Homo sapiens: one gene and its partners. The protein of the gene in region 2 purifies or fractionates together with the protein of the main gene of each other region. This does not show direct contact. Each region holds a gene or a part of one and is shown on either strand. Other genes may lie near its edges.

Region 1 (7,041 bases), on a different chromosome or scaffold from region 2:
TAATGGAGATGTATTAACTATGGTTCATATTTTCAAATTATTGAATGAGACTTTACAAGTAAAGCAAAGTTTGATTCGTGGATTTAGGAGGAAAGGTATGTGCATACATGCATGTGTGTATGCATTCATTCATTCTTTCTAATGTGTAAATCATAAGTTTTCAAATATTTGAAGTGTTTCATTATAGTGACAATGTCAAAATACCTTATAACTCACTATCCTAAAGACCTTTTTAGATTATTTTAACATATTTAAAAATTTTAATTGAAATTTTTATCGAGTGTATTAGGGTTCTCCAGAGGGACAGAACTAATAGGATATATGTATGTATGAAGGGGCGTTTGTTAAGGAGAATTGGCTCACATGTTCACAAGGTGAAGGCCCATTATAGGCCACCTGCAAGCTGAGGAGGAAGGAAGCTAGTAGTGGCCCAGTCCGAGTCCAAAGGCCTCAAAAGTAGGGAAGCCAACACTGTAGAGCCTTCAGTCTGTGGCCAAAGGCCCAAGAGCCCTCGGCAAACCGCTGGTGTAAGTCTGAGAGTCCAAAGGCCAAAGAACCTGGCGTCTGATGTCAAGGGCAGGAGGCATCCAGCAGGGGAGAAAGATGAAAGCTGGAAGACTCAGCAAGTCACCTATCCCACCTTTTTCCTCCTGTTTTGTTCCAGCCTCGCTGGCAGCTGAGTGGATGGTGCCCACCCATATTGAGGGTGGGTCTTCCTCTCCCAGTCCACTGACTCAAATGTTAGTCTTCTCTAGCAACGCCCTCACTGACACACCCAGAAACAAGACTTTACAGCCTTCAATCCAATCAAGTTGACATTTAATATTAACTGTCACACTGATGTTTTCATGTACAGATGTAAGAAACAATGCAGAGTTCCTTTTCACTTTGTCCAGTGTCCGCCATTGATAACATTTTGCAAAATTGTAGTATAGTATTACAACCAGGATATTGATACAATCTCCCATAGCGTTCAGATTGCCACAATTTTGCTTGTACTAGCATGTGTGTGTGCGGGTTAAGTTCTATATAATTTTATCCCCTGCGAAGGTTTGTGTATCCACCACCATAGTTAAGATAACAGCCGGGCCCAGTGGCTCATGCCTGTAATCCCAGCACTTTGGGAGGGCGAGGCAGGCAGATCACCTGAGGTCAGGAGTTCGAGACCAGCCTGGCCAACATGGTGAAACCACATCTCTACTAAAAATACAAAAATTAGCCAGGCGTGGTGGCGGGCACCTGTAATCCCAGCTACTCGGGAGACTGAGGCAGGAGAATCACTTGCAGTGAGCCAAGATCGTGCCGCTGCACTCTAGCCTGGGTGACAGAGAGAGACTCTGCCTCAAAAAAAAAAAAAAAAAAAAAGGAACTGAACTTGCCAACACAAAGATCCCTTGTGTTGTCCTTTTATAACCACAGACATCTCCTGCCTACACTCCATGCCCTCATCCCCTTGCCCCCTTCCTCCGTGCCTAATCCATGGCAACCACTAATCTTTCTTCCTTTTCTAAAGTTTTGTCATTCTAAAAATGTTATATAAATGGAATTATGCAGTATATTACCTCTTAGGATTGATGTTGTTTGACTTAGCTGAGATTATCCAGCTTGTGTGTATCAGCAATTTATTCCTTTTTATTGCTGAGTAATATTCTGTAGTATGGATGTACCTTGTGTGTGTGTGTGTGTGTGTGTGTGTGTGTGTGTGTGTGTGTGTAGCTTTTTACCTATTGAAGGAAATCAGGCTAATTCTGGTTTTTGGCTATCACAAATAAAATTGCTGTAAACATTTGTGTACTGGTTTTTGTGTGAACATAAATTTGCATTTCTCTGGGATAAAAGACCAGGAGTGCAGTTGCTGGGTTATATGGTAGTTGCATGTTTAGTTTTATAAGAAAGTTTTTTTCAAAGTGTCTGTACCATTTTACATTCCCACTAGCAATATGTGAGTGATTTAGTTTATCGGCATTCTCATTAGCATTTGATGGTATCACTGCTTTTTATTGGAGCCTTTAAAAAGCCTAAACATGGTTTAGCATGTTTATGTTTTTAAGAAGATCACAGCCGGGCGCGGTGGCTCACGCCTGTAATCCCAGCACTTTGGGAGGCCTAGGCGAGTGGATCACGAGGTCAGGAAATAGAGACCATCCTGGCTAACGTGGTGAAACCCCCGTCTCTACTAAAAATACAGAAAAATTAGCCGGGCATGGTGGCAGGCACCTGTAGTCCCAGCTGCTCGGGAGGCTGAGGCAGGAGAATGGCGTGAACCCGAGAGGCGGAGCTTGCAGTGAGCCGAGATCGCGCCACTGCACTCCAGCCTGGGCGACAGAGCGAGACTCCGTCTTAGAAAAAAAAAAATCACAAATATTAATATTATCTTGACCACTCTTATAAGAACTCAGTGGTTTCAAATTAATTTTGTGCTTTTAATCCAGGATGATGCCTTCTGTGTACTGGAGTTGGTTCCATTTGCCTCTCACTTTAAGAGGCAGGTTTAATGTAAATGTGCAAGTTTCTACTTAAAAGTTTTGTTACTTCGAGTCCATGAATTTTTGCTGAAACAGTACCGAGGCATGATTTTTATAACTTCTCTTAGATCACTTTTAAAAATCTGAATCTTTAAAACTTTTACTGTTAGGAATTTTTGACAGTAAAGTTAATAGTTACCAGTTAGTATGCATTTACCATGGATCAAGACTTTGTAACTGCTTTACAAATACTGTTTTATATCCTTTAAAATTCTGCTTTTGTAGCTTGTAGCAGTTGGAGTTGTTTGGAATACAGTGGCCATGTGGAGCTGGGCTAGCAGTAGACTCACTATGTGTGGCAGGTAGTGTTCATCCTGCTCTAATTCATAGATGATTTTTTTTTTCACTATCATGGGAAAATTGTGGTAATGTCTTACATCTTTAACTTATGTGAGTAAACCATAATTCATGTGCAATTAAGAGAGGACTCTATAAAATAGTGTGTGGTCCCTGTGAAAAGCATGCTTTTCCAGGATCTTTTTCTTTTACATTTCTTAGAAGAATATGTTTTCTTCAAATTAAAGTACATATTTTATAATTATCACAAATAAGTTACATATCTCTCTATTCCTCTTCTACTTATTTTGTTTTTATGTACTAGACAGCTTTCAAATGATGTGTTTGTTTTTATTTTGTGTATCAACAGGTGACAGTTAAAGGATTTGAACCTTTAATTCAGTTTGCCTACACTGCTAAACTGATTTTAAGTAAAGAGAATGTGGATGAAGTGTGCAAATGTGTGGAGTTTTTAAGTGTACATAATATTGAGGAATCCTGCTTTCAGTTTCTGAAATTTAAGTTTTTGGACTCCACTGCAGACCAGCAAGAATGCCCAAGAAAAAAATGCTTTTCATCACACTGTCAGAAAACAGACCTTAAACTTTCACTTTTGGACCAGAGGGATCTAGAAACTGATGAAGTGGAGGAATTTCTGGAAAATAAAAATGTTCAGACTCCTCAGTGTAAACTCCGCAGGTATCAAGGAAATGCAAAAGCCTCACCTCCTCTACAAGACAGTGCCAGTCAGACATATGAGTCCATGTGCTTAGAGAAGGATGCTGCTCTGGCCTTGCCTTCTTTATGCCCCAAATACAGAAAATTCCAAAAAGCATTTGGAACTGACAGAGTCCGTACTGGGGAATCTAGTGTCAAAGACATTCATGCTTCTGTTCAGCCAAATGAAAGGTCTGAAAATGAATGCCTGGGAGGAGTCCCGGAGTGTAGAGATTTGCAGGTGATGTTAAAATGTGACGAAAGTAAATTAGCAATGGAACCTGAAGAAACGAAGAAAGATCCTGCTTCTCAGTGCCCAACTGAAAAATCAGAAGTGACTCCTTTCCCCCACAATTCTTCCATAGACCCTCATGGACTTTATTCTTTGTCTCTTTTACACACATATGACCAATATGGTGACTTGAATTTTGCTGGTATGCAAAACACAACAGTGTTAACAGAAAAGCCTTTGTCAGGTACAGACGTCCAAGAAAAAACATTTGGTGAAAGTCAGGATTTACCTTTGAAATCCGACTTGGGCACCAGGGAAGATAGTAGTGTTGCATCTAGTGATAGGAGTAGTGTGGAGCGAGAAGTGGCAGAACACCTAGCAAAAGGCTTCTGGAGTGACATTTGCAGCACGGACACTCCTTGCCAAATGCAGTTATCACCTGCTGTGGCCAAAGATGGCTCAGAACAGATCTCACAGAAACGGTCTGAGTGTCCGTGGTTAGGTATCAGGATTAGTGAGAGCCCAGAACCAGGTCAAAGGACTTTCACAACATTAAGTTCTGTCAACTGCCCTTTTATAAGTACTCTGAGTACTGAAGGCTGTTCAAGCAATTTGGAAATTGGAAACGATGATTATGTTTCAGAACCCCAGCAAGAACCTTGCCCATATGCTTGTGTCATTAGCTTGGGAGACGACTCTGAGACGGACACCGAAGGAGACAGTGAATCCTGTTCAGCCAGAGAACAAGAATGTGAGGTGAGCAGGAATATGTTCTTAATTCATTGTTTTAATAACCATTAATTGGGATTTACTGTGGATCAGCTCCCTTTGCATCATTAGGGATATAATCAGGTTCAGGGAGTGGGGAGGAAACTCATACAAAATTAATTGTAAGACTGTGTGATAGGGCTGGGCGCAGTGGCCCACAACTGTTAATTCCAGCACTTTGAGAAGCCGAGGTGTGGGTGGATCACCTGAAGTCAGAAGTTTGAGATCAGCCTGGCCAACATGGCGAATCTCCGTCTCTACAAAAATTAGCTGGGTGTGGTGGTGGGTGCCTGTAATCCCAGCTACTCGAGAGGCTGAGGCAGGAGAAGCGCTTGAATGTGGGAGGCGGAGGTTGCAGTGAGCCAGGTTTGCACCACTGCACTCCAGCCTAGGAGACAGAGCAAGACTGTCTCAAAAAATTTTTTAAAAACACTGTGTGATAAATACCAAAAGAGAGAGATGAAGTTTGAAGGACTTCTGTTCATTCGTTTCCAGTAGATATATTAACCATAAAGTAGGTTCACACATTGGCTGTGTTCACACATCGGCCATTTAATTGTTTAAATCAAATGCCATGCTGCAAGACAAAAAAGAATAATGATTCTATGCTCATTATTTGATAACTCCTGGAAAAATGCAGCATATATTCAGTCTTGCTCATTGCCAACAAGAACCTCTAGACCTGGGACATGTCCCTGAGCAGTGGTTTAACAGTGATTAGTTGTAGGAATGTGACTTCTAGTGGAGTAAAGTTTATTGGATCTAGTTTTTCATGGCCATTGATTTTTAAATTTTCCTTTGGCCATTTCAACTATTGATGAATGTCTTAATTTAGCATGAGTTACATGTAGCTGGTATGATATTAATCAAAGCAAGCTTGATTTGTATATTCTGTTTGTATTTGATAGATCCTTTCTGTAAAATATTACTTATAAGTCCAATAATGACAAGGGCCTGTTAGTTCCTTCCAAAAATATATTAATTAAAATATTTTTTCTTTTTTTTGTTTTTATATTTTATGATTTTTTTTGCCTTTCAATAGTTGGCTTTTCTCTTTATAATCACAATTTACATTCTTTTTAAAAATTATTTTTCTATTTTATCCATTGCATTTTTTCCCCTTTCTTGGGCTTTATTTGTTTTTTGTAAGAATACTTAACATGGGATCTACCCTTATAACAAAATTTTAAGTGTACGATACAGTATTGTTAAGTATAAGCACAATATTGTACAGCAGATCTCTATAACTTATTCTTTTATGACTGAAACTTAACCCATCCAATTGCAATTCCCCATTTTTTCCCTCTCCCTAGCCCCTGGCAACCACCATTCTACTCTCTGTTTCTGTGAGTTTGACTGTTCTGTCTACTTCGTATAAGTGAAATCATGTTGGATTTACTCTCCTCTGTGTCTGGCTTATTTCACTTAGCATGATGCCTCCCAAGTTCTCCATATTGTAGGCAAATGGCAGGATTTCCTTCTTTTTATCAGGCTGAATGGTATTCCTTTGTGTATATACACCACGTTTTCTTTATCCGTTCATCCATCCATGGACATTTAGGTTGTTTCCATATCATGGCTATTGTGAATAATGCGGTAACGAATATGGCGGGGAGTACAGACTGGGCACAGTGGCTCATGCCTGTAATCCCAACACCTTGGGAGGCTGAGGTGGGTAGATTGCCTGAGCCCAGGAGTTTGAGATCAGCTTGGGCAACATGGTAAAACCCCATCTCTACAAAAAATACAAAAATTAGCCAGGCATGGTGGCATGTGCCAGTAGTCCCAGCTACTTAGGAAGCTGAGGTGAGAGGATCGCTTGAGCCTAGGAGGTTGAGGCTGCAGTAAGCCATGATTGTGCCACCGTACTCCTGCATGACAGAGACCCTGTCTCCAAAAAAATATGTGTAGATCAGTGCAGATATCCTTTTGAGATTGTATAGAAATTGGGATAGAGGCCTATGTTTTCTTTAATGTAAAATAAGTTCTCTGAAAAACTTAGATGTATACCTTCATCTTCCTAGGTTTGACTATAATTATAAAATACAGCAATAATTAGTAATATTTATTTCATATTCTAGGTAAAACTGCCATTCAATGCACAACGGATAATTTCACTGTCTCGAAATGATTTTCAGTCCTTGTTGAAAATGCACAAGCTTACTCCAGAACAGCTGGATTGTATCCATGATATTCGAAGAAGAAGTAAAAACAGAATTGCTGCACAGCGCTGTCGCAAGAGAAAACTTGACTGTATACAGAATCTTGAATCAGAAATTGAGAAGCTGGTAAGTGTAAAAGTTTCTTGTTACTATTTAAATTCCACCACTTTCTTTTTTGTCAAGGAAATAGTTTTTAAATTTCTAGGTCAGATATAATGCTCAATTACTTATTTTAATATGTATCAATTACCATTTTATCATTTTTACCATGATATGCTGTGATATGTAAGTGCTTTTTAAAAAGAAGGTTTTCAAATTAAGAATGACTTTACTGTCTACCTAATCATTAGTGGTTGTGAAT
Region 2 (7,498 bases):
TGCTGGTTAACTTTGGACCTCACCCTGAGTCCATGTGATTACAACTGATCATCTGTGTGCCTCAGTCTCCTCCCGAGTCCCAGAGCTAGTGACGTGAACACCAGTATCTTGTAGGAAGAAGGCACTGAGGTCCCAGAAGGAAAGTGAGGTACAGAGACCAGGCTTAAGTGACAGGAAGTGGCAGCTGTCTCAGCTGTTTTGGAAGCCTGAGAACTGACTTCCCGGTCCTAAAGTGAGGGATGCTGGCCTCATGCCCCCTCAGGCCAGGACCCTGCACTGAGTGCCTGCGGACATATTTAGACAGCACGTGGCCTCTGCTGGCACTGTCTGGGGACAGCAGAAAAGAGTACTGGGGAGTGGACATGGGAAGATTCTATGTAAAATTCAACAAAAGTGAACTTTCAAAAGAGCCCATAGGGCCCTCCCAGGCCTGCCAGGCCAGCTCACAGCTCCAGGTGGGCACCCCAAGCATCTCAGAGCCACAGAACAGCCACGGCAATGTCCCTTGGGAAGCAGCACCACTTGCCACTTGCTTTGGCTGTGACCTGCATCTCTGGTCTGCTTTCTGTGCATCTTGGCTAAAAGACAGCTGGGAAAGAGGCCACACTCTCCTCCAGGAAGAGAGGCCCAGCAGAAACTGCATTAGCCAGGCAAGCACCAGCTGCCCGACCTGCTCAGGAATAGCATGCGCCACATGCCTGACCAAAGGCCTCTCCCCAAACCCTCTTCTCCCTTGGAGACCAGGACCCTGGAGTCACTCTCTGGAGATCTGGCCAATAACCCCCTGGACCCCAGGGCTGTTTGTGGTTCCCTTGGAAGAAGAAGTAAAGGGCCCAAATGCCTGCAGCACATGCCTGGGGGCTAGACAAGGACACTGACCTGGAGAGGCCTTCCTTCACACCCTGCTGTGGGGCTTGTCGCTCTCCATGCCTTCTCTGCTGCTTCCCTGCTTGACTTCAGCCTCACAGCATGTGGGGTATAACTGGCATGAGGGGCAGGAAGGTGAGGAGGAGGTCCCTAGGCAGGTGCGTGGCTGCAGCACAGAGAGACCAGGGCTCACCGGGCCTGGTGCTTGGCATACTCAGGGGCCTGGAGGATGGGTGCATGGAGTTGGTTTGTGGGAAAAATGAGGCCTTGTTGTGGCAGGGGATGGGGAGCTGCCTGGGCGTGGCCTTCGGTCTGGCAGGGATGAACACCTCAGGATGTGCAGTACCTGGCCCTCAGTCTGCCAGAGATGAATACCCCAGGCTGTGCAGCAGCTTCGGTGTCATCCAACACCACACTGCCTAGGCAACACCTGCCCACAGTGGCTTGGACAAGACACCCCTGTCAGCCCCTGGGCTGTAAGTCAGTGGGCCAGCATCTGCCCAAGGCAGGAATCCTGGGAGGGGCTGGCCATTGTCCCTCCTGACTCAGTTGCTCTCAGCTCCCTACTGTGCCATCAGGTGCTCTCAGGACAGATGCTTCCAGGACAGGCTCTTCTACAAAAACGGGGTTGCCTCCTGGGCCTGGAGTCACACCATAGACAAGGAGGCTTTTGGGCACCTAGCCAGGGTCACTCTGCACACATCTCATGAATGAAAATCCTCATCAGAAAATACATCACCGTTCCTCCAGGATGTGACTGTTTCTAGAGAGGGCCTGGTCTCTATCTCCCACTCCCTCCTCCACATGCTACAAGAAATAGAAGCAGCAGCATAAGAAAATGAAGAGGAACAAGAAAATGATGATAAGGAGAAGAAAAGAAAAAGAACAGACAAGGGAATCAGGAGTCCTATTACAGCTTTTGTCCCCTCCCTGATTCATGAAATTTAAAAAAGCCCAAGACTATCCCAACAAAAAACAAGCAAAAAGATACACAAATAGTCACTACCCAAACTTTGTTAATAATGACACAATGCTGCCACTCACGCCTGGCTCAGGACCTACCAGGAGGAGGGCGCCCTCCAGATTCTGCAGGAGAAGCGGAGGAGACTCCTCCTTCCCCAGGCTGCGCCTCCACCGCTGCCCCAGAGGCCCACAGCTTCCTACCCACCCCAGGCCAGGCCCAGCCGGGCGGGTCAGCCCTGGAGCGCTCCTACCCGCCTTCCCAACCTCCAGACTTGCTGCTGCTGCCACCACTAGCACTGATGCCAATACAACCACTGTTCCTGTTGCCCTCAGTCCACTGGTCCACCCTACAAGGCTCCTACCACCTGGATACCACAGCAGGCCTGCCCTTGCCCAGGCAGCAGCCAGCCGCCCTCCTACTGCTCTGGCACTCTGCAGTCTCCATTGCTGCTCTCCTACCGCTCTGGTGCTCTGTAGTCTCCATCGCCACCACCAACCACAGCAAGGTGAGCTGCGGTGCCCCCAGCTCCAGCCTCCAGCATGGAATAAGTGGCTCCTCCTCCTGGCACGGAGCAACTGGGCAGGCAAAGTCAGATAAGCCTAGAACAGGATGCAGAGAGTGGTAGCATTAGAGTCTCACCTTGTCATGCTGGCCACTAGGTGGCAGGGGCCAGTTTTAGCAAAGGCACTCACACCTACCCTCCAAAGCCCAGCCTCCCTTTTTGGCCCAAGTTCACCAGGAACTGGGGCCTGGGGTGGGGACTGGAGACACCACAGTACAGCGTCCGGGCTTCCCACTCGGCACGAATCGCTGGGCCCACCCCTGGCTGCGCTCCTCAGGAAGCAGAAGCAGCAGAAACTCAACCCCAGCCAGCCCTCCCCACCCAAGTGCCGGTACCTCTTCCTGACACCTCCACCCACAGGGCCCTGTCACTCCATGATGTCCGCTACTGTGTGCCCAGGGGTCCCAGACGGTCTCAGCAACACATGGTGAGAGGGCGCGCGCCTGGGAACCACAGCAGGTCTAGGGGCCGGGCCGTGCTCAGGATCCCCGCAGAAATGCTGTGTGCTGGCCAGGAGCAGAAGGAGATGGCCCTCTAGAGACTGGAGTCCCTCTCACCTCCTCTGACCACCGCTGTCACTGACACCTCCGCTGCCCACCACCAGGGGGACGGTGCAGCCCCCGATAGCGCCCCCGACCCTCCCCCACAGCTGGCAGTGTAGCACCAGATGGCAACCCCAACCCGCCCCTGCCTCGGACACTGCAGCACCAATGGCACCCGCAACCCACCCCCTGCCTTGGGCAGCGCAGCCCGGGATAGCGCCCCCAACCCGCTCCCTGCCGTAGGCAGTGGCTGTAGACAGTGTAGCCATGGGTAGCGACCCCAACCAGACCCCTGCCGTGGGCAGTGATGCCCCGATATGGCACCCAAATCGCCCCCTACCCCGGGCAGTGCAACCCTGGATAGTGCCCCTACCTGCTCCCCACCAGGAGAAGCAGCCCAGGATAGCACCCTCAACCCACTTCCTGCCTCCAGGCAGTGCAGCCACAGATAGCACCCAAACTTACTCCCCACCTCGGGCAGTGCGGCCACAGACAGCTCACCTAAACCACCCCCTGCCAAGGGCAGTGTAGCCCCCTATAGTGCACCCAACCTGCCCCTGCTGCAGCCAGTGCAGCCCCAGATAGCACACCCACCCGCTCCCTGCTAGGCAGTACAGACCCCTGATAGCACCCAACCCACCCCTCCACCGCAGGCAGTGTACCCGGCCCTCAATAGCGCCCCCAACCAACGCCCCCACCCCCTCTCCATGGGCAGTCCAGCCCCGGTACCAATCCCAACAACCCCCCGCTACCTGTCTCAGTGTAGCCCCCAGAGAGCGCCCTCAACAACCCCCTCCCCACTGCCAGCAGTGTAGCACCCTATAGTGACCCTAACCCGTCCCCCACCACCAGCATTGCAGCCCCAAATAGTGCCCCCAACCCGCTCCCCACTGTGGGCAGTGCAGCCATGGATAGTGTCCCCAACCAGCTCCCAGATGCAGGCAATGATGCCCTGGATATCACGCCCGCCCCCGTCCCCCACAGGCAGAGTAGCACCGGATAGCAGCACCCACCCTCGCCACCAGCAGTGTTGCACCCACCAGCCCCCCACAACCTGTCCCCAACAAGGGCATCAGGGCATTGCAGCACCTGATAGTTCTACTAACTCACCCCCGCCCCCCGGCCGCGGGCAGTGCATCCCCAGATAGTGCCCCCAAAACTCCCCACTGCCGCAGGAATTACAGCTTCGGATAGCGCCCCAACCCATCTCCAGCCATAGGCTGGATAGCGCCCCCGGATAGCGCCCCCACCCCACTCCCCTCAGCGGGCAGTGACGCCCGAGGTACCACACTCAAGCAGCCCCCCAACACGGGCAGTGACGCCCTGGATAGGGCCCCCAACCCGCCCCCCACGCCACAGGCAGTACGGCCTGGGATAACGAACCTATTCTGCCACCTTTTCACCATTCTGGCTGCGCTGTAGTCACCCTCGCGGCCACCAACCGCAGCAGCGAGGTGAGCCACTGTAGGCTCCAGCCTCCAGCATGCGCGGTAGATGACTCTAGCCTCTGGCATGCGCGGCAAGTGGCTCCTCCTCCTTCTCCTCTAAGCCGGGCACAGAGCAGCTACGCAGGCCGACGCAGATGAGCCTGGAAGGGCAAGCCACCCCTCTTGGCATCCTTTATATACTGAGTTTAATGCAAATGAAGTTTCTCGACTACATAGTCTGATCGGATGAGAGAAACCTCTAGGCCTACTCTGATCGGGCTTTGTTATCTTGTTCTGATTGGTTATCCTAAGACTTGCTGTCATCCAGTCAGAACGTGAAAATAAAGCACAATCAGAGTAGACCTAGAGGTTTTTCTCTCATCCAATCTGAACATGTAGTCCAGAAACCTTACTTGCATAACCTCGGTCTGTGGGGGGAGGGGTTCTTGCCATTCCAGGCACTTCTGCGTCTGCCAGCCCATCTGCTCCATGCCCAGGTTAGAGGAGGAGTCACCTGTCCCACGCTGGAGGCTTGAAAGCCTGCAGCAGCATGGCTCGGCTCGCTGCCGTTGGTGGCGGTGAGGGAGACTAGACCGCAGCCAGAATGTAGAAAGGTGGCGGGGTGGATGAGCTATCCAGGGCTCACTGCCTGCGGCAGGGGGCGGGGAGGGGGACAGGTTGGATGCACGATCTGGAGCTGCACTGCCCGAGGTGGGAGCGGGGGCGGATTGAGGGCGCCATCGTGGGCTACAACCCGGTGGTGGGAGGCGTGTTAGGGGCAGTATTGGGTGCTGCACTGCCTACAGCACGGGAAGGTTGGGTGCTTTACCGGACGTCATTTCCCGCAGCCGCGGGGTGGCTTGCTGGGGGCGCTATCCGTGGCTGCACTGGTCGCGCTGGGGTACGGGTTGGGGGCGCTATCTGGGACATCAGTGCGCATGGCAGGGAACTTGTTGGCTGTGATATCCGAGGCGTCACTGCCCTTGGCTGGGGGCTGGTTGGGGGCTCTATCTATGGGCTACACTGCCTACAGCCAGGAGCGTGTTGGGGCGTTATCGGGGCGGACTGCCAGTGGCGGGGGTGGGGGTGCGGGTTGGGTGCTATCGGGGGGCTTCACTGCCTGGCAGGGAGTGGATTGGGTGCGCTATTTGGGGTTGGACTGCCGGCGGTGGTTGACTCGGTGGGAGGAGAGGGGCAGAGGGAATGGGTTGGATGCACTATCGGGAGCTACACTGCCCGAGGCGAGGGGGAGATGGGGGCGCCATCGTTGGCTACACCGCATGTAGTGGGGGGCGTGTAAGGAGCAGTAGTGCGTGTTGCATTGCTCATGGCGGGGGAGGGTTGGGTGCGTTATCCCGGGCGTCATTTCCCACAGCGGCGGGGGTCAGTGGAGGGGCTTGTTGAGGGCGCTATCCATGGCTGCACTGGTCGCTGAGGGGCAAGGATTGGGGGCGCTACCTGGGACATCAGTGCCATGGTGGGGAACTTGTTGGGTGTGTTATCCGAGGCATCACTCCCCATGGCTGGGGGCTGGTTGGGGGCGCTACCCATGGGCTGCACTGCCCACAGCCAGGAGCGTGTATGGGACATTATCGGGGGCGGACTGCCAGTGGCTGGGTGGGGAGGCGGGTTGGATGCTATGTGGGGTTGCACTGCCCAGCAGGGAGTGAGTTCGGTGCGCTATCTGGGGTTGCACTGCCGGCGGTGGGTGGCAGATTGGGTGCCCTATCGCTACACTGCCGCGGCGAGTACCGGGTTGGCGGCGCTATCCTGGGCTACACCGCCGGTGGCGGGAGGCGTTTTAGGGGCGCTATCTGGTGCTGCACTGCCCGCGCAGGAGTTGGGTTGGGTGACCTACTCCAGGCGTCACTGCCCGAGGCTGGGGGCTGATTTGGGGCGCTATCCCGGGAGTCATTTCCTGTGGCGAGGGGCTGGTTGAGGGTGGTATCCGTGGCTGCACTGCCCACAGCACAGAGCGGGTTTGGGGAGTTATCCCGGGCTGCGCTGCCCGTGGCAGGGGGCAGGCTGCCAGCGCCATTGGGTGCTGCATGTACTAGGCACGGATGAGTTAGGGGCGCCATCTGGGACTGCACTGCCGGTGGCGGGCGGTGGAGGTGTCAGTGACAGCGGTGGTCTGCAAGAGAGGAGCGGTCCTCCTCTTCCCGGCCACCTCCTCCTGTTCTTGCTCAAGTGCGGCGGGCGCACAGCATTTCCTGAGCGCGGCAGGGGCCCCAGCCCCGTGGTGCTTCCTGGACCCGCCTCCTATTGCTCTGTGTTGCAGAGACCGCCTGGGACCCCGGGGCACGCAGTAGTGGACACGAGGAGGCTACAGGGCCCTGTGGGTGGAGGAGGCATCAGGAACGGGAACCGGCACTTGGGTGGGGAGGGCTGGCTGGGGTTGAGTTTCTGCTGCTCCTGCTTCCCGAGGAGTGCAGCCAGGGTGGCTGCAGCTGTTCCTGTGGAGTGGGAAGCCCGGGCACTGTGGTGTCTGCAGTCCCCACTCCAGGCCGCAGTTCCTGGCCAGCTTGCGCTAAAAGGAGAGGCTGGACTTTGAAGTGTGGGTGTGAGTACCTTCGCTGAAACCGGCCCCTGCCACCCAGTGGCCAGCATGACAAGGTGCGCTCTAATGTTACCACTCTGCATCCTGTTCTAGGCTTTTCTGGCTTTGTCTGCCCGGATGCCCAGTGCCCTGAGAAGGAGCTACATGCCACGGGCTGGAGGCTAGAGCCTGTGGCACCATGATTTGCCTCCGATGGAGGTGGCTGAATTAGGCTTCCCAGAGACTGCAGTGTCCCAATCCAGGATCTGTCTATGTGCTGTATTGTGTGGCCACTGGGACTTTGCAGACATGATGGTGATAAGGAGCCTGAGGTGAGAGACAATTCTGGGTTTTCCGCATTGCTCCAGGGTGGAGTCTTTATAAGGGAAAGAGGAAGGCAGGAGGAGGGTCACAGTGAGAGGAGGAGATGTGGGGATGGAGGGAGAGAGAAGGAGAGGGGAGTCCAGGGAGAGGAAGACAGAAAGTGGGGGGAGAGAAGATCAGGAGAGAGATCTGAAGATGCTGAGCTCTGGCTTTGTAGTTAGAAGAAAGGGCCAGGAGCTGGGGGCGTCCTCTAGAAGCTGGAAAAGTTCTGGA
Region 3 (4,590 bases), on a different chromosome or scaffold from region 2:
CTTTACACAAAGGTGTAAAGTAGTGTACATATCAGATCTATATTTTATTTATCTCTTCCCCCTTTCCTTTTTGCCCTCTCATTATTAATTGTTGGTGACCCTTTCAGGAGTAATTCTAGTGTGTTTACATCTTTAATCATTGAATTACTTACACATCCTTTCACCTCATATCATTAGCAAAAACGGATATTTTTTAAAACTATTCCCGACTGCAAGATTATCCTTTTGGTCATGAAAGCGTGACCTGCAATGGTCCAAGCAAAATTTTTAACATAGTTATCGATGCATAATGTCTTTATAGATAGCAATTAAGTAAAAATATTAAGTCTAATTAAGCAATTGTTTAAGTTACACAAGTCTCATGAAGTGCATTGGGAAACTTTCTGCTTTTTCTCTTCTTTGAAAGGGCTTGTACAGATGAGAATTACCTGTCCCTTGATAGATTTTTTTTTTTTTTTGAGACAAAGTCTTGCTCCATCACCCAGCCTGGAGTGCAGCAGTGCAATCTCGGCTCCCTGCAGCCTCCAATCCCCAGATTTAAGCAATTCTTGTGCCTCAGCCTCCCAAGTAGGTGGGACTACAGGCATGTGTCACCACCCCCGGCCAATTTTTGTATTTTTAACAGAGACGGAGTTTCACCATGTTGGCCAGACTGGTCGTGAACTCCTAGCCTCAAGTGGTCTGCCCGCCTCAGCCTCCCAAAGTGCTGGGATTACAGGCATGAGCCATCACACCCAGCCCTACCTGTTCCTTGAATGTTAAGTAAAATTCACTTGTAAACTGGGCCTGGTATTTTCCTTGTGGAAAGATTTTAAACTACTGATTTGGTCTCTCCAAAGTTTTAAATTTAGATTGTTTCTTAGTGGGTTTGGATTTTTTTTTCCATTTTTATATTGGCTATTAAAAATGTAGGGGAGCTTCTGTCATTCAGTTTCGCTTCATCTAAACTAGAACCTACCATCAAAATTGCTATTTCAATATGATGTGTGATTCATATTTGGAACACAGTTTTAGAAATGCTTTTTGAAAGTAACTTTAAATAAAATATTATGATATAGTTAATGAAGATCATTTTATTTTGTCATAGGAGGAACCAAATCAGATGAAAAAGTGGACTTGAGCAAGGACAAAAAATTAGCCCAATTTAACAACTGGTTTACATGGTGTCATAATTGCAGGCACGGTGGACATGCTGGACATATGCTTAGTTGGTTCAGGTAATCAGCACATTTCTTCTTTGATAGGCTTGGAGTTATGGGGGATAACACAGATTGCTTCTAAATAGTTTGGGTTTATCTATTAGCATTTAGCCAAAGTATGAATTTTATTTTTTACTGTCACTCATGTTAACAAAGGTGGTGTGAACATGTCGTGATTAGATATCCTATGTAACCTTAAACTATAAAGGTAATACTTATGTAAGAACTAATTTAAATGTTTTGTATGAGTTAAATGTTTGAATAACATTATTTAACTTTATTCGGGGAGAGGATATGTTTACAGTTTTTACACTGAATATTCTGTAATTTACCATGCAATTGAATTACTAATGAAATGTTAAAAGAGCATATCATACCTCTGCCTCAGTTCTCTTCTAAGTAAGCTTTTTATGTAGTCACGCAATTAAGACTGTCAAGACATATTTGAATTTCATTTTGAATGGTGCCAGTGGCCCTGTGCTCCTGGTTGATACAGCATTTATACCCAGTTTGTCTTACTAGCTAATTTAAACTCTGAGCACATCCCTGTCACCTTCACAACTATAAATGAAATATCTTGCCATATATGTAGAAAGTAAAAGGTATGTGTTTCTTAACTTCTCCCTAAACTTCAGCTTGGCAGTAGTTTATAATTTGATGCTTTTGATGCTTTTTTTCTCTGGGTTTTAGTTTCTATATTTTTCCAAATGCCATTTTGAAAAGTTGCATTATAGATAGATATAAGTAAACAGGTGGGCACAGTGGTGCACACCTGTAGTCCCAGCTACTCAGGAGGCTGAGGCAGGAGGATCACTTGAGCCCAAAAGTGTGCGTACAGCCTGGGAAATATAGGGAGACCCTGTCTCTTAAAAAATAAATAAATAAATAAATGTATGTCTGTCTAATTTGGATTTTTAACTGTTATTTGACCTATTTTTTTAGGGACCATGCAGAGTGCCCTGTGTCGGCATGCACGTGTAAATGTATGCAGTTGGATACAACAGGGAATCTGGTACCTGCAGAGACTGTCCAGCCATAAAATGTTACCACCTTAAGAGAACCCTTCAAGTGTGGAGCTTTCTAGTAGGTGTCCTTCATAGCTCAGAAACATACCTCAGAACAAGCCATTCATGACTTACCTGTAATGGGAAAATAAATCATTCTATCAGATCAGCAGTTTTGATGTTTGAGTGATTTTGATATGCTTCACAGAGACAAATGCTGCCAAAATAAACATCGAAGTATAGACATGAGTTCTGTTCAGCAGGTTGAAAAGTCTGATTTAGAAAAACTTTCTAAGTTTTGGTTGAAATTATGAACACTCTAGAAGCAGAATTTCTGGAAGAGCCAAGAACAGACTTTGAGCCTATATCTTCAAAGCTGAAACTGGATATCTTTCAATAAAATATGTGCACTTTTAAAATAAAATGACTAATTCTGTGATTCAGACAATAGTTTTAAGTTCAGCTGTGCTTAGATTTCTTTCAGATTAATTTAAAATTACAGATTTTTACTTTTAGAATTGCAGAGCCCCTATCCCACACTGGAGAATATTTTTTATTACTGTCTGTTATATATGTGTCTATGTGTGTGTGTATATTTATGTGTGTATGTATAAATATGTATTTTTTAAAGGAGCCTTTTCCCTCCTTTGATTTTAAGATAAGCAATCTTTTGGCATAACATTATCGTCTTCCTAGAAAAGCCAAGATGAAGAATCTATCTTACAACTTTTTCTCTTCAGTAGAGAAAAACATGTACCATTTCAGGTGAACATACAAAATTTTCACTTTCTACCTTTTGCCTTCCAATGTCCTGATTTGTCTTCAAAGGTTTTTCTCCATATTAATTTGTCATCTTATCCTCATCACCTGAGAACATTTTACTGCATACAAAGTCTATGCAAGATTATATGTAACTAGCCATTTAGTATAATCTATGTCAGTGTTTCTGTGCTGTCAAATTCCGTCCTGATTTGGAATACCATACCTTGTTCTTTCCAAGGTAGACTAGGAAGTGTTGGGGAAATGGGGTCACTTCAGAGACCATTTTAGATGTAAGTTTTTAAATGTAAGTGTTACTGGGGCTAAGTCAGGTACTTTATTTAAAACATTTTTTTTTCTCATTTCATAGCTAGATAGTTGTAAGAGAAATACAAAGAATTTACAAGATGCTTCTCTGTCATCTGCCATATGCAGAGGGACTGAACTAGGAATTTTGTAGTTGAAGCTGTGTTCATAAAGAGTAAATCTTATTTTATAGATTTTGGAGAAATAAAACAAGAATTTTAAGAGCTTTCGTATTAGCAGTTTTGCCTTATAAAAACTAAGATTTGTCAGATTAGTTTGAGGTGTAACCTAAATATTAAAAGTAGATTAAATTTATTTTTTACCTTGAGTGTCTGATACATAAAACCCTTTTCTAGGAAAACATTGGAAGTAGTACATATTTACTCTAAATGTCTCACCTGCATGACAGTCTTTTCAAATGAAAGACATGGTAATTGCAATTTTTTTTTAAAGATTGCTATTAAGGGTACTTTTTCCAGCCTTCATTTGAGTAAATCTTAATTGATTTCATTTTATTAACATATACCCTTTACCTTTAATATTTCATTTGAAGTGTTCCTTTCAAACTTACTGTCTTAAATATGAAAGTCAGCTTTAAGTAATGTCAGACTCATATGCATTTTCATTCTCATTAGCTAAAGTAAAATGTAAAATTATCTCAAATAGTTACAAGTTTTGGAAATACAGTATAAAACATGAATGTAAAGTCTATTATGTAATATGCTTATTTGTAATCCTAATATATGAGGGTGACATTTTTAAGATTGTATGTATGTGTCAACCTCTTAAATGTTTTCTGTGAAGCCCAAACATGCAGTTTATGTCTCTGGTGTCTGTTTTGCATTTCAGTGTGCATGGACAATCAAATTATTTTCTCATTTTTATCACTAAGTCACTGGTATTTGGGTTTATAAACTCAACAAGATACTTTACCTAAACATGATCAATAGATGTGTTTATTAAAAGTGTTTTTATTATTTTTAAAAGATTGAATAAATCTGGGTTGAAGTCATTGTATCTAATCAAGAAATTATGATTCCTTTACAAATAATCCACGTGAAGTAATATTGGTGCTTTTTTTGATGACAGACTTCATACTTAATATTAGAAGTAACATTCCTTTTAGGCTCTGTTTTTCAATTCAACCCACTTTCCAGAATAGTTATTATCCTTTAAAATGGTATATTTTAAAAGTAGCTTCCCATTGTCAATGCTTCACATAGTAAGTATTTAAAAGAATGTAGTTCTTCATTTAATTAGATGACTCAATTTCAGTCATTCATTTGACTGCAAGTAGTTAAAGCATGGTCTTTGAAACATAA
Region 4 (4,599 bases), on a different chromosome or scaffold from region 2:
CTTTGAAATGATCTACTGAAATACCTAAATTGATAGAAATTAATCATACTCAATCTAGGACATGTTCCTTTACTCCTTAAAAAAGAAAGGAAAGATCTCTAAATTCAAAGCTAGATTGTAAATAGGCATTCAAGAAGTATTGTCTTAAATTTACGATGAATTTCTTGTGAGCAGAGGACGAAACAGGTGAATTCTCACCAGACTCAAACCAGATCTCAATTCGTAGTAATGCTAAATCGTCTTCCGTGTTCTCAGAGGTTCTTTTCAGTGTCTGTCAGAACTTGGCATACTTTCTCCATAGTACGTAGACCTTCTAATACTCTGCTAAATGAAACCACACTTGTTATCTGAAAGTGTGTGAAAGAAACAATGTATGAAAATTTACATTTGATCATCCGGCATTGGAAATAGTTTGAACTATTTCCAAAAATCCCTTAGGGGATGAGGGGTGAAATTTAAAAGCTCCTGAAAATGAGTACTGCTGTGTTGAGCTTTTCTTTCCTGGGGTATATTAATTTAGTTATATTTAGCAGAAGAGGAATATAACCAAATGTGACTAAAATATAGCAGAAATTCAGGTTGTTTGTAAAAATTTTAATAACAAATAGCATTTGGCAAGTCTATAGGATTCTTCCTATCTGGAAATTCTATTTTGTTAGAGTGCGATAGGACATATGGAAAACCAACACAAAGTGCTTTAGCATTAAAACTCACCATCAAATAGATGTAATCTTATTAATTACACATTTTGTATTTTAATTATTTCAAGGAGTGAAGAAAACAGGGTGTTTTTGTTTTTGTAGTTCTGATTACTCATTTATGCATTGTTTTGTTTAAGTAAATTCTGCCTACAAGTGAAAAGGTCGGTGCGCTCTTCTGTGCACCATCCTCACGGTGCTATTTCCGAATATCTGAATATTGATTTCTAACACCTGGATGAGGCTGTGACCGATCAACTTGGAACACTGTAAAGGTTTTCGAATGGGATACGCTGTAGGCACGTTTTAAGAAGTATTCTGTTCCTAAAGTCCAGGTATGATTGGATTAATATTTATAAAATTATTATTAGGAATTATTTAAGTGGGGCCAGGCATCTTGCAACATTTTCTGATTTTTTTTTCTTTCTTTCTAATCTCATTTTGGTGATATTTAAACAAACATAAATGATTGTAACTTTGCAGCTTTTTTATTTAGGTAGCTTTAATTTATTTATGAAAGTTAATCCATTTCTGATACGTGGTTTTTAAAAATATGAAATGGATTTATATATACTATATTCCTCAAATCCACTGTATGTGGACTTATATTCATTTTCTCCTTTTTTCGGAATTGAAACATTTTAATTTCAAATTCAAATAGAACATTTAAAATGATTTCATTATTATTACCCATACTGTTGCCACTCATATTGTAAGTCAGTTTTTTCATTGCTGGTACAATGACTCAGTATTTCTTTATAAAAATCTGTTGTTCTGAAAATCAACAACCTTAGAAGGATTTTGTCTTAGAAAATTTCCTTGGCTTTAGTTTTATATCATATTTAGAAAATAATAATGAAAAGCATCCCCAAAATTTCAATGATGTGAATTTTTAAATTACCTTTATTTCTTTAAACTAATTCCATTGATTGTTACTTAAATTTTCCACCTGGAATCATGGATTTAAAATTTCCCCACCTCATGGGGAAAAAACTAACCCAGAAGTTCAAAGCCTTTAAAGTTTCATCTGATTCTGGCCTTAGAATTGTCCTTAAAAGCTTTCTCCTGGCCGATAGGAGGAAGCATATATCAAGGAGGTTCTTTCCCTTCCCATTATCATTTTGTGGCAAGCCTTAAGTTAACAATGTGTCTACCAAGAACAATTGAGTTTTCTAAAAGTAATAATGAAGATTATGCAATTCTAACTGTAGAAGAGATAGCTATTAAAATAATCAGTAGCCTGGGCATAGTGGCTCACACCTGTAATCCCAATACTTTAGAAGGCCAAGGCTGGAGGACTGCTTGAGTCCAGAAGTTTAAGACCAGCCTGGGCAACACGGGGAGACCCTGTCTCTACAAGAAATTAAAAATTAGCCAGGCATAGTTGGCACGTGCCTGTAGCACCAGCTACTTGGGAGGTTAAGGTGGGAGGATCACTTGAGCCTGGGAGATAGAGGCTTGCAGTGAGCCGTGATGGCACCATTGCACTCCAACCGGGGTGACAGATGAGGTCCTCTGTTTACCTCCCCCCCCAAAAAAAAAATTCAGTAGGAATTCCTTCATAGAATAACATGTTATTTATTGGTATTGACTTCTTATTAGACAGAGCTCATAGTATTTGTTTTCTGCTCCGAACACTTAAAAAATACTAAGACGTGATAGTGAAAATAGCTTTGAAAAGAAACTACATATGGCAAAGGTGGGGAGGGGGGAAGATGATGCATTCTGATCATTATAAAGAATACTTTTCAGGGCTCTATCATTTTCTCCCTTTCTCTAATCATCCAGAATATGGCGGGTGTCCCAGTGTTCAACAGTATCATGCTAATATTCCATTTGATCGGTAGTCCAAGTTCTTTGGCCAGATAGTGCAATGTTGTGACACCGACCGAAGCCTTTGTTCTGGATCTTTCTTCCTATTGAAGGTGGCTGCTGGTGGCTTCATAATTTTCTGTTTTTTTTCTCACAAAGTAAATGGTGGGCATCCATGTTTACATTGCACCTTCCCGTGCTGTAATTGGCTTGACAAAGACAAGCAGGCTTCTCTGTTGAGACTTATTGTGTTTTTAGTTTTCATAGACACTTATTTAATCTTTTTAAATTGTACAGCAAGGTGCTCTAAGTAATATTCGATAAAATATATTTAATAGAAATTTGCGTTTGATATTCATGAACATGAATACATGTATTTTTTTAAGAAATAAGTATTGTGTAACACTATGGCATTGCTTCTATAGCCAAAGTATAAAAATTTCTGGAATACTGACATGTAAAGACTACAGTTAATTCTGACACTGTATCTTATTAAAATAGGATGATTTGCATTTTGTAAAATTATCCTGCACATCAAGCTGCATGCCTTAAAGCGGAAACTCTAGGACTGTGTTCATGGGAGAGCAGTTCATCTGTTCAGAACAGTGAGGCAAGGTCTGTAGTGCTTCTTTAACTACCTTTGGAAATACTGTACAATGTTAGAATAATTTATTTTGCTTTACAGGAGTTTGTCATGTATTGACTTTAATATTGTATTTTGGTAATAAATTTTTTGTTAAAAAAAACTTGGCTCCAAGTTCTATTAACCACAGGTTGTGTTCATTCTTTTCCTGGAAATGATGACTTTATTGCTTAGAAAGTTGTAAATAATTAAAAGCTTCCCAAGAGTTAAATGAAGGTTATGATGACTCTTGATAACTTGTTAATCTGTTGCTGACTAGCATTAGACTGTTACACGAAGATAAACTGAATAAGCATTTAGCTTTTTAAATCATTTTAAAAATTAAGTCTAATTTTGAAGCTTTTTTCCTTGCTACCCAGTTCAGTTTCTCTTCCAAATGTGACACGCTTATATGCTTTCAATTCTGATATAGTCAAAGTGCTAAAGACTAGTTCTGCTATTGACGAAGGAATTAGCATTCCTTAGTGAAGGCCAAAAACTACAGTGATATGTTCACACCTTGATCACTCTGTCGTCTATACAGACAGCTATTGACATATTTGTTGCATTGACGAAGCTAACATCATCTGACTGTATCGTGGGTCTGGTTATCCATTTGTGCCCTAGAATCCTGGGTCACCTCAGTTGAAAGTGACCAAGGCCAAATATTTCGTCCCATGCTTCCCAGGGACAACATAATCATATCCCCTGTCTTTGAAAAACCCAATCTGAAACTGTGTCACTAACCTCCAAATTAAAGAATCCGAGCATGGAAGCTCTAGAACGTATGGTCCAGTGTGGCAGCCACTATAATATCTAAGTGTAAAATACATAGCAGTTGCAAAGACTTAGTACAAAAAGAATGGAAATGTATTAACAGTTTTTTATATTGATTACATGTTGAAATGATATTTTGGTTTAAATAAAATATTAAAATTAGTTTTACCTGTTTCTTTAGCTACTAAACAGTTTTAAATTACATATGTGGCTTACATTATATTTCTTTTGGACAGCGCTGGTACAGAAGAGAGATTAGCAAACTAGGGCCCTCTCTTCAAAGCCAACCTGCCACCTGTTTTGGCAAATAAAGTTTTATTGGCACACAGCCATGCTTTTGTGTGTGTACATATCATATATGGCTATTTTCAAGGTACAACAGCAGCACTGAGTAATTGTGACAGAGACTCTATGGCCCACAAAACCTAATTTACCACCTATCTGATAGAAAAAGTCTTCTGACTAGACCTCTGAACTAGAACAATGGTATAATTTGTGCTCTAGAGCTACCAGGAAGAAAACGGCTTTTTACAAAGAAAGCTTTTTATAGTAGTGCTTTATAACTAAATTAGTTTCTTCCTTTGTAATTTTTATAGTCTACCTGTCTACAGATTTTAACCATATTTTATGACTTTAACCTATTCCATCGCTGATATTTAAAGCCAGTTTGAAATAACAATGCATAATTAA

What was found.
Region 1: the proteins of RFPL2 (region 2) and BACH1 purify together in Homo sapiens (affinity purification with mass spectrometry; 3 studies listed by BioGRID and IntAct, with this or other methods). This does not show direct contact.
Region 3: the proteins of RFPL2 (region 2) and MIOS purify together in Homo sapiens (affinity purification with mass spectrometry; 3 studies listed by BioGRID and IntAct, with this or other methods). This does not show direct contact.
Region 4: the proteins of RFPL2 (region 2) and ZNF507 purify together in Homo sapiens (affinity purification with mass spectrometry; 3 studies listed by BioGRID and IntAct, with this or other methods). This does not show direct contact.

Annotation. Positions count from the first base shown.
Region 1 is NC_000021.9:29,322,888-29,329,928, forward strand, and holds part of BACH1 (transcription regulator protein BACH1), read left to right. Parts: intron 1-3,171; coding exon 3,172-4,506; intron 4,507-6,599; coding exon 6,600-6,806; intron 6,807-7,041. UniProt on the Homo sapiens protein: Transcriptional regulator that acts as a repressor or activator, depending on the context. Binds to NF-E2 DNA binding sites. Plays important roles in coordinating transcription activation and repression by MAFK.
Region 2 is NC_000022.11:32,202,068-32,209,565, reverse strand, and holds the start of RFPL2 (ret finger protein-like 2), read left to right. Parts: upstream 1-4,492; 5' UTR 4,493-4,859; exon of another isoform or gene 4,860-5,263; intron 5,264-6,088; exon of another isoform or gene 6,089-6,925; intron 6,926-7,015; 5' UTR 7,016-7,114; coding exon 7,115-7,233; intron 7,234-7,498.
Region 3 is NC_000007.14:7,604,855-7,609,444, forward strand, and holds the end of MIOS (GATOR2 complex protein MIOS), read left to right. Parts: intron 1-1,087; coding exon 1,088-1,217; intron 1,218-2,141; coding exon 2,142-2,238; 3' UTR 2,239-4,078; downstream 4,079-4,590. UniProt on the Homo sapiens protein: As a component of the GATOR2 complex, functions as an activator of the amino acid-sensing branch of the mTORC1 signaling pathway. The GATOR2 complex indirectly activates mTORC1 through the inhibition of the GATOR1 subcomplex.
Region 4 is NC_000019.10:32,383,597-32,388,195, forward strand, and holds the end of ZNF507 (zinc finger protein 507), read left to right. Parts: 3' UTR 1-4,071; downstream 4,072-4,599. UniProt on the Homo sapiens protein: May be involved in transcriptional regulation.